Linked DNA regions of Homo sapiens: region 2 is linked to region 1. The links come from fine-mapping of genetic effects on gene expression. A gene starts in region 1. The other region holds a variant in brackets. All regions are shown on one strand. Distances are from middle to middle. Region 1 holds the start of UBA3 (ubiquitin like modifier activating enzyme 3). Region 2 has its middle 9.0 kb from the start of TAFA4.

The links. PIP is the estimated chance that this variant, and not a neighbour inherited with it, causes the effect.
Region 2: its variant is the best candidate, but not a certain one, in a credible set for the expression of UBA3 in whole blood (INTERVAL, PIP 0.89).

Annotation. Positions count from the first base shown.
Region 1 is chr3:69,078,187-69,082,587 of GRCh38, reverse strand. It overlaps UBA3 (ubiquitin like modifier activating enzyme 3), which reads left to right and starts at 2,223. Exons shown (of 18, transcript NM_003968.4): 1 at 2,223-2,254; 2 at 2,435-2,476. The coding sequence starts at 2,235. RefSeq lists an enhancer at 452-511 and silencers at 2,115-2,184, 2,305-2,394, 2,515-2,744.
Region 2 is chr3:68,939,327-68,943,727 of GRCh38, reverse strand. No RefSeq gene overlaps it. Among named protein-coding and RNA genes, the nearest start is that of TAFA4, 9.0 kb to the right of the region's middle. The variant C/T (reference allele first, on the strand shown) is at 1,977.

The sequences.
Region 1 (4,401 bases):
CATTACTTTTTTCCAGTAACTGTTTGAAATGCTATTAGTAGCAGCTCTTTGTTAGTGTTCATTCCGGGGAGGGAGGGGTCAGATTCACTGTAGAGGTCTTTCTGGAGCTTTAATTTATTATTATTTTTAGAGACAGGGTCTCACTATGTTGCCCAGGCTGGTTTTAAACTCCTGGGCTCAAACAGTCCTCCCACCTCAGCCTCCCAAGTAGCCGGGACTACAGGTGTGGGAAGCCGAGCCCTGCTTGATGGGGCTTTTATAATGGGACTGGTGTGTCTAGATAGGACCATTCAGACTATCTGTCTGTTTAAAAACCATAGCAGATAGTCTAATTGTTTATGATATGTTCCATTTGAAGTAAAATAAATCTGTTGAAGGTTTTGCTTGCATGTCTCTGTTGCTTTCATTCCTGGCAAGGGCAGATGGCTATTTCTAATCCGTCAATCAATCTAAGCCAGTGAGAGTGCCTGGTGTCGTTTATCAAAATACCACCATGGTGAGTCAGGCTGTTAGTCTCAAAGCAAGCAGATGCAGGGCCAGATACCTTTGCAGACTTCTTCATCGGCTAGCTGTACTCTATCCCTAGGCCTCAGTTTCCTCCCCTGTGAAATGGGTGAGACTGGACTAGGTGGCCTTTAAGGTGACTGCTGCTTTTCACTATCTGAGAGGGTTGCAATGCTCACTACCACTAATCAAAGGGTATCCAGTATTGTTGGGGGTTCAGGCTACAGGAGCCCATTTTGATAAGCACTGAGGTTAAATCCTCAGTGAAACCATCTGTGGAGTTGTCTGGGCAAGAAAAAGTAGTTTCATAGTTGACGCTGAGACATGTGATGCAGAAGGAGGCTGGTATCTCTTGATAGGGACTGTGAACTCTATTCCCACGCTCACTGCCTGGCATTGACTTTCAGCTCAGTGAATGCTATTGAACTGAACCTAATTGGGGGACCATAAAGGACAAGCTTTCCTTAAGGTTCACTGAAAACTAGGACAAGAGGAGGTTAAATATCACAGTGTAGTAACAGCAGCTACATTTACTGAGTACCCATCAGGCTTTATGTACTCCATTTCAGTGGCCCTCAAACTTTACCAGTGGAGAATCACCCCAGGCTTTGCAGAAGGCTGAAGGGTGGGGTGGCGGGGGGGCGGTGGGGAGCGTGGTGGGGGCGGTGAGGGGTGAAAATTTGTGTTAAAAAAAACTTCCCAAGTGATGTTGATCAGGAACTGTATTTTGAGAGCCACTCTGGATTTTACTTAATTATCAGTCTTACAAGGTGAATAGTGTTATGCCCACTTTATAAATGAAGAAATAGAAGTGTCTAAGGGTTTCGTAGCTCACAACTGAGAAGAATTTAAAATCAGTTACTTTTGATTCCAAATATCATTCTTGTCCCACTCCATAGAAGGAGATGTGTGTGTACGTGTATATACATACATTTTTGAACATGATCATTTCCCTCTATCCAGCCATCCAGATTCACAGTGTATATTTGTATTTCTGACTCTAGAAGAAAATAATTGAAACTTTTATCACAATTTATCTTTAGGTGATAGGATTATGGGTGTTCTCAGTTATTCTTTGATTTTTGTGATTGTTTTCCTTTATACTTTTTTCTTTGTATCTAAATATACACATTTATCTCAGGAAAAGTTTTAATCATTTTGTTTCCGCTGAACTTATCTAACAGAATGTGACATGAAAATATTAATGCTGATTTGTTCAAAGAAAATAATAATCTCCCACCCCACCAATGTAAACGGATTTAGATAAATTTATTATTCAAGTGAGTACTTATAAAGGCAAAGACTTTGGAACCATCCTGAAAAGCAGAAAGTGAAAATTTCCTTGATCTTTGCCCCCAGAGGAAAGCTCTGGCATACTGGGAGGGTTCTTCACGAATTTTTCATAGAATATACCAATATTTTGTATAATTACGTATTAACATATAGTTTGTGTAAACGCATAATGTATTGTCTACATTTTCACGCTGCAGAGCAACATTATGCACGGTATAAGATTCACCTAATTAAGCGTAGGTAATTAAGATTATAATTACAGGGCAAGACTTTAAAGCCCATGGGAGCCCAGCCGCAGTCAACCTCGCACCTCCCTGCCGGTTGTGTTTCTGGCCTCGCCCCTCCCCGCTTCGCCAGCCCCGCCCCTCCCCGCTTTGCCAGTCCCGCTCCTCCCCGCCCTGCCGCGCGTGGGCACCTGGGAAGAGGCGGAGAACAATATGGCGGATGGCGAGGAGCCGTAAGTACCGGGGCTCTGCAGACGCGCCGGGCTGGGCTGGGTTGTGAGAGAGCGCGGCGGTGGGCGGTTGCCGCCGCCACCCGGGGTCCCCACACCCCCCGCCCCGTCCCCTCGCCCCCCTCCCCTCGCGGCGCCCAGTGTGTAGCGCGATGCTGACCCTTCTTTTATTCTCTCTTTTAGGGAGAAGAAAAGAAGGAGAATAGAGGAGCTGCTGGCTGAGAAGTTAGTGCTGCCGGGAGGCCGGGGCCCTCTCCGGGGACCCCCGCCTCCCCCCACCCCAGGCCTAGGGGACCAGCCGCAGCGGGCCCGGGGGGCTGGGAGGGGGACACCCGGAGCGCAGGCCGCGCTGCCTCATCCCCTGATCCCCGCCCCGCAGCCCCGGGGGCCTGGCGGGCCGCTCCCGGTATCTGCCCGGTGCGGGCGTCGGGGCCAGGCTGTACTGCCCCAGCTCCTGCAGGGGCCCTCCGGGGTGCTTGACGTAAAGGTCTTGAGGAAGGACCCTTGTGCACTCCTCTTCCTCCATCCCAAATTGTCAGAGCAGTGACCCTGTGAAAAGGCAATCTACCTTAAACACACAGGAAAAGGACACAAGACCGTTTTGTGGCCTTTTGCAAACACTGAGACAGTAGTACTAATTGCAAACTTTTAATGATAACTCTACATGTCAGGTATTGTACTAAGCACTCCAGTCATTTTGGCAGAATAATTGGCTCTTAAAAGATCTGGAAAGAGGTTGTTGACTTCAAACAGCCTATTTATCCCTTTTACTACACACCCTATTTCTTATCAGATGCTTAATTCTATGCTGGTGAGACAGATTTAATCGAAGTGTTTTCTAACCTGGCCAGCGCCACATAATTTACTCCCCTCCCTGCCTGGGCAGGGAAAAAATACTCTTGCATTGGTTATGGTGAGTTTGTAAATTTCCGTGCCGATTCCCAGTAGCAGTGCTTTGATCTTTATGTGTGTCCCTCAGTTGAATTTCAGCTGCAAGAGGACCGGGATGACAAACTTAATTTCACATTCTTTCCTGCCTTTTATTTCCCTCCCACTTTTACATGAAATCACAATTAAACATTGCTTACCATATCCCACGTACTGTACTGAGTCTTCTGTGTGATTATCTATATCCTCATGGCTGAAAGAAGTAGCTATGAACGGCCTGCAGATGAGGTTTATGTCTATTAAGTAATCTGCTCAAGGTCACAGTGCTGTTAATTGTGGAACCCAACACAACTCTGACATCAAAACGTATGGTTTTTATTGCTAGGCAATACTTCTTGGTCCCTTTTGTAAAAATTGGATATTACTAATATATTTGACGGTAGAAACTGTGGAGTTATAGGAAATTAGAAAATTAAAAATAATCACAACCAAACGTGAATCTTAACTAAGTATAAAATAGATGAATTTTGTAGAGGAGTCCCACCTTATTCTGTTGTATGTTCTAAAAGGTTTGTAGATGTCTATCTGTGGCGTAATTGTAATCTGAAACTTTGTGTTTAGTGGCAAGAAAAGCCGTCCCACAGCATTAAGAGATTCTTTAAAAAATTAAGACCTCTGCCAGGTTCGGTGGCTCATGCCTGTAATCCCAGCACTTTGGGAGGCCGAGGTGGACGGATTACTTGAGCTCAGGAGTTTCAGACCAGCCTGTGCAACATGGCGAAACCCGTCTCTACTAAAAATACAAAAATTGGCTGGGTATGGTGGCATGTACCTGTAGGCACAGCTACTTGGGAGGCTGAGGCAGGAGAATCACTTGAGCCCAGGAGGGCAAGGCTGCAGTGAGCTGCAGTCACACCACTGCACTCCAGCCTGGGCAACACAGTGAGACTCTGTCACAAAAAAAGAAAAAGAAAAAGAAAAAATAACCTTATTTCTGAGAAAAGTGTGTGAAAATTCCTCTCATCAAAGTGATTTTTAGATTACACCTTTGGAAAGGACACATAAATATTAAATTTGCATCAGACATATAAGCATCAGAATTCTGAAAGTGTGACTTTTTTTCTCTGTTGTATCTCATATTTCCTAATGCAAGTGTGATGAAACAACAGATTGAGGAAGCTTGCAGTGTTTTTTTTGTAAATACCAAATGTAGAGAAGTCAATTTCTCACATAATAGACCAATATCCTAAGTTGAACCTTGG
Region 2 (4,401 bases), 140 kb after region 1:
AAGAAGGGGCATGGAGTAAAAGGAAGTACAAGGGAGTATTTAAAAAATCATCTCAGTGCATTTATTTATTATTTAAAATGTATGTCAGTGTGTTCTAATAACCTTAAAAAATAAAATGCTGACATAATGAATCACACATTACTTTTTTGTTTTTGTTAAGAATCTTATGAAAATGTTAGAATGTTTTGAATTTGCTAGGGGCAAAATTAACTCAATTTGGAACCTTGTTTATCAAGACTGGGTGGGAGTGTCACTTTGGGGTGTCGCCATATTCAACCTGATACCCACTTTTTTTTTTTTTTTAAAGAGATAAGGTCTCACTCTGTCATCCAGGCTAGACTACAGTTGCCCAATCATAGCTCACGGCAGCCTCAAACTCCTGGGCTAAACTTACCCTCCTGCTTTAGCCTCCTGAGTAGCTGGAACTACAGGTGCCTGCCATGACGCCCGGCTAATTTTTAAATTTCTTGTTAAGACAGGGTCTCATTATTTTTCCCAGGCTGGTCTTCCCAATTACTGGCCTCAAGCGATCCTCTTGCCTTGGCCTCCCAAAATGTTGAGAATACAGGCATGAGCTATGGCGCCCAGCTGATACCCGCTTTTTTATATTCTCCAGGTCCCGTCTCGTTCTCTTCAGCCTGGTCCTTGAGACTTGTATTAATTTGCAAGGTTTGTTTAGAGATTCAAATGGTTAAGGCAGATTGAATTTTTCAGACCAGGCATACTACGAGGGTAATGGAACATGAGCATGGCAGGAAAATGACCAAATCCTAGAACAGAAACTGCTTGAGGTTCCTTCCATCTCATGACACCTAGAAGCATGGTCACTGTGAACCTCTGTAAACTCTACCTCAATCTTGCTTCTGTTGATAGAATACTATAGTAGTCAGCGTTCTTCAGAGAAACAGAACCAATAGGATATATATAGAAATAAATATGAATATAAATTATATATATAAATTATAAGTATAGCTTGTATAAATAAATATAAATTATACAAAAATAAATTTAAATACAAATTATATAAAAGTAAATATAAATATACATTATATATAAATATACATTATTTATAAATATATATTATATAAATATACATTATAAATATATATTATATATACATTATAAATATATATTATATATAAATATACATTATTTATATATATAACAAACCTGAGATTTTTTTAAGGTAATTGGCTCATGCAATTACAGAAGCTGAGACTCCATGATCTGCCATCTGCAAGCTGGAGACTCAGGAAAGCCAGGGGTGTAGCTCAAAACACTGAGAGCTCTATAGCTGATGGTGTAGATTCCAATCCAAATCTAAAAACCTGAGAACCAGGAGTGCTGAAGGCAGGAGAATATCGATGTCCCAGCTCAAACAGTCAGCCAGAGAGTGAATTCAAACTTTTTCTGCCTTTTTGTTCTATTCAGGGACTCAATGAATTGGGTAATGCCCTCTCTCGTTGGGGAGGGCCGTCTGTTTTTTACTTAGTTTACCTATTCAGATATCAATCTCTTTCAGAAATACCTTCACAGACATACCCAGACATTATGTTTAACCAGATATCTGGGCATGCTGTGGCCCAGTTAATTCAACACATACAATTAGTCATTACTAGTATATAATGTGTAGAGCCTTGCACAGAGTGAGTGCCCAATAGATGAGGCTATCACAGTAATTCCCTAACTGTGTACTTTCACTTGACAGCCTCATTCCCCTCTGTGGCTGCAATGAGTACCTCTAAGCATCTAAGCAGATGATTTCCAAATCCACGTCTCCAGCCCAGATCTCTACCACTCAAGATTCTGAGGCAACTTGGAGTAGGGGAAAAGCATTCTTGACTTAGAGACTTTCTAGCTTGAAACAAGTCACACTAAGAAACATCACATATGTTCTCTGAGCCTCAGTTTATTCATTGGTAAAAATGGAGAAAATAAATAACTTCTAATGGAGTTACTACAAAGAGAAAATAAGA[C/T]AATGTGGGTAAAATCACTAAATATGTTAGCCTTTTCTTACCTAGATATTCTACTCAAACACAAAATTTTCAAGCACTGAAGCTCCCAGTAAACCGAGTCAGCTACTTCCTGAATATCTCTTTTAGAGTTGCTGTGGTCTCAGATCTCCAACTCTGTAGACTGGCTTCTTCATAGCTTCAATTGCACATCGTCCATAATTGTCTGTCATGTCTTCTACTTTATTATGACATTTAGTTCAACTGCCCCAACCAAATGACTCAGTCTCTAGGGCCCCCATTTTCAAATTCCAGGAAGAAAAGTCTGTTTGGCTCATGCCACTTTTCCAGCCAGGTCACACAAATCAGAGGAACTGGATAGATGAATTGTACCTGGCTTAGGACCTCAAACATAATTTATTTAGCTGTTGCCACGTGGGTTGGGTAATACGGAACATGGTTAGTTGTTCAGTCAGGGCAGTGGGTAGGGCAGTTTTCCGCAATGGACACTAGTGAGCATTGTCCAACGTTCCTTCTTTTCTAGGAATTTATAACCATGTAATGATAGTGGGGCTGCCATTCACCACCGCCCCCCCTTGCCCAACCTGGGCATGGACATAGACTTGTGAAACAAGCTGGGCTAGATTTTTAAAAAACTGAAGTCAGAGGAGAATTCTTGTTGCCTTTAGGGTCACGTGGCTGGAAGGGAATAGCTTGGGATTATTGAATAACATTTCCTCTGCTTTTTGGATGTAGCCTCTTCTTGATAAGAGAATGAGGCCAACAATAAAAAAAGAAAAAAAAAAGCCAAGAGATGGGGAAATTATACATACACATACATTCCTTCCCTGAGTACTAATATCCAACCACACTTCTGGAACTTCTCAGTTATGTGAGCAGATAGCTGTCCCTTTTTGCCTATGCCAGTTGTGTTGGGTTTCTGTCACCTGCAATCAAGGGTTTTGGCTAGGACGCTTTCTCGGGAGATGCTTGGCAGGCAGGCAAATGTCTAGTACTGCATCCAGCTTGAAATCCATGGGATTTGAGGTCTATGGATAGATTTAGCTTCCCTGATGAGAAAGTCCCTGATTGAGAGTATTTCAAATGTCAGTTGTCCAAGTGAAGCCTCTTAAGTCCTACTTTAACATTCATGACCTTTTACAAAATAATGTTCCAAGGTAGAGGCAAAAAACTCAAGTCCAAAAATAAAAGTCAAATGGCATGTGGTTTTTGTTGCATGTGTTAGAATATGATAGATAGAAAAAAAAAACTGGAATAAAACCCAACTCTTATTTTTCGGTTTTCTCCAAAACTTTGCACTAGAATTCTAGGAGATTAGACAGGACAGGTAATGACCACCAGCATGGTTTCTCTTTCCACCTTTATTTTGTCACAATATCAACTTGCAAGACACAAACTCAGCACGCTCAGAACCCAAGTTCCAAAGATATTTAACTGTCAGCCCATCTTTGCCACCATCCTCACTAGATTGAGTCGTTTCAGGGGAAGCTGAGTTGGTGAACGGGGAAGGAAGAAATTCTCAGTATACATCATCATTCAGTGTGAGGCAGAGTGGCTGCCCCTTAGGGTTGCAGAGCTAGAGAGAGAAGAGAACATTAAGGATGGAATCAGGCTAGGCCCATGGTGGAATATGAAGGCACTGCAAATCCTGTGTTTCTTTAGAATAGCATTCTCATTGGCCATTTCTGCCAATGGAGTCACTCCTATTTTCATAAATCTCAGCCCCCTTCTGATTGTGTTATGCCCCACCTTTCCAATTTTGCCATTTACTTAAATTATTATCCATATATTTTTCTTTAATTGGAATCACCTTTGAATTTAGCCTCATTCCAAATAGCAATATCCATGAAACCACAGGTTTGATATTCTCACTTAACTTTTTCCTGATGTACATTAAAACAATGAAAACTATTAAAAAATTCTTTTGCATTTCAGGTAAAGTCATTTTGCAACCCATCTGTGGAATAAAAACCATATTTTGGAGAATAATGGGTTAATATATTGTTTCTTGTGTTACCACACAGACATGCTACAAATGTGGGAGGGATAACAGTTAGAAACTTTATTTATATCTGGAAATGATTAGCAGATTTGATACGGTCACCTGTTACAGTCTATAAGGTGAAGGTACAGAGAACCAGTAAATTTTGATGGAGCAGATAGGGGTTAGAGAAAAAATAATTTCTTTCTTTCTTTTTTTTTTTTTTTCTTGAGATGGAGTCTCACTCTGTTGCCCAGGCTGGAATGCAGTGGCTCAATCTTGACTCACTGCAACCTCTGCTTCCTGGGTTCAAGGGATTCTCCTGCCTCAGCCTGCTGAGTAACTGGGACTACAGGCACGCACCACCATGCCTGGCTAATTTTTGTATTTTTAAAATAGAGATGGGGTTTCATCATGTTGGCCAGGCTAGTCTCAAACTCCTGACCT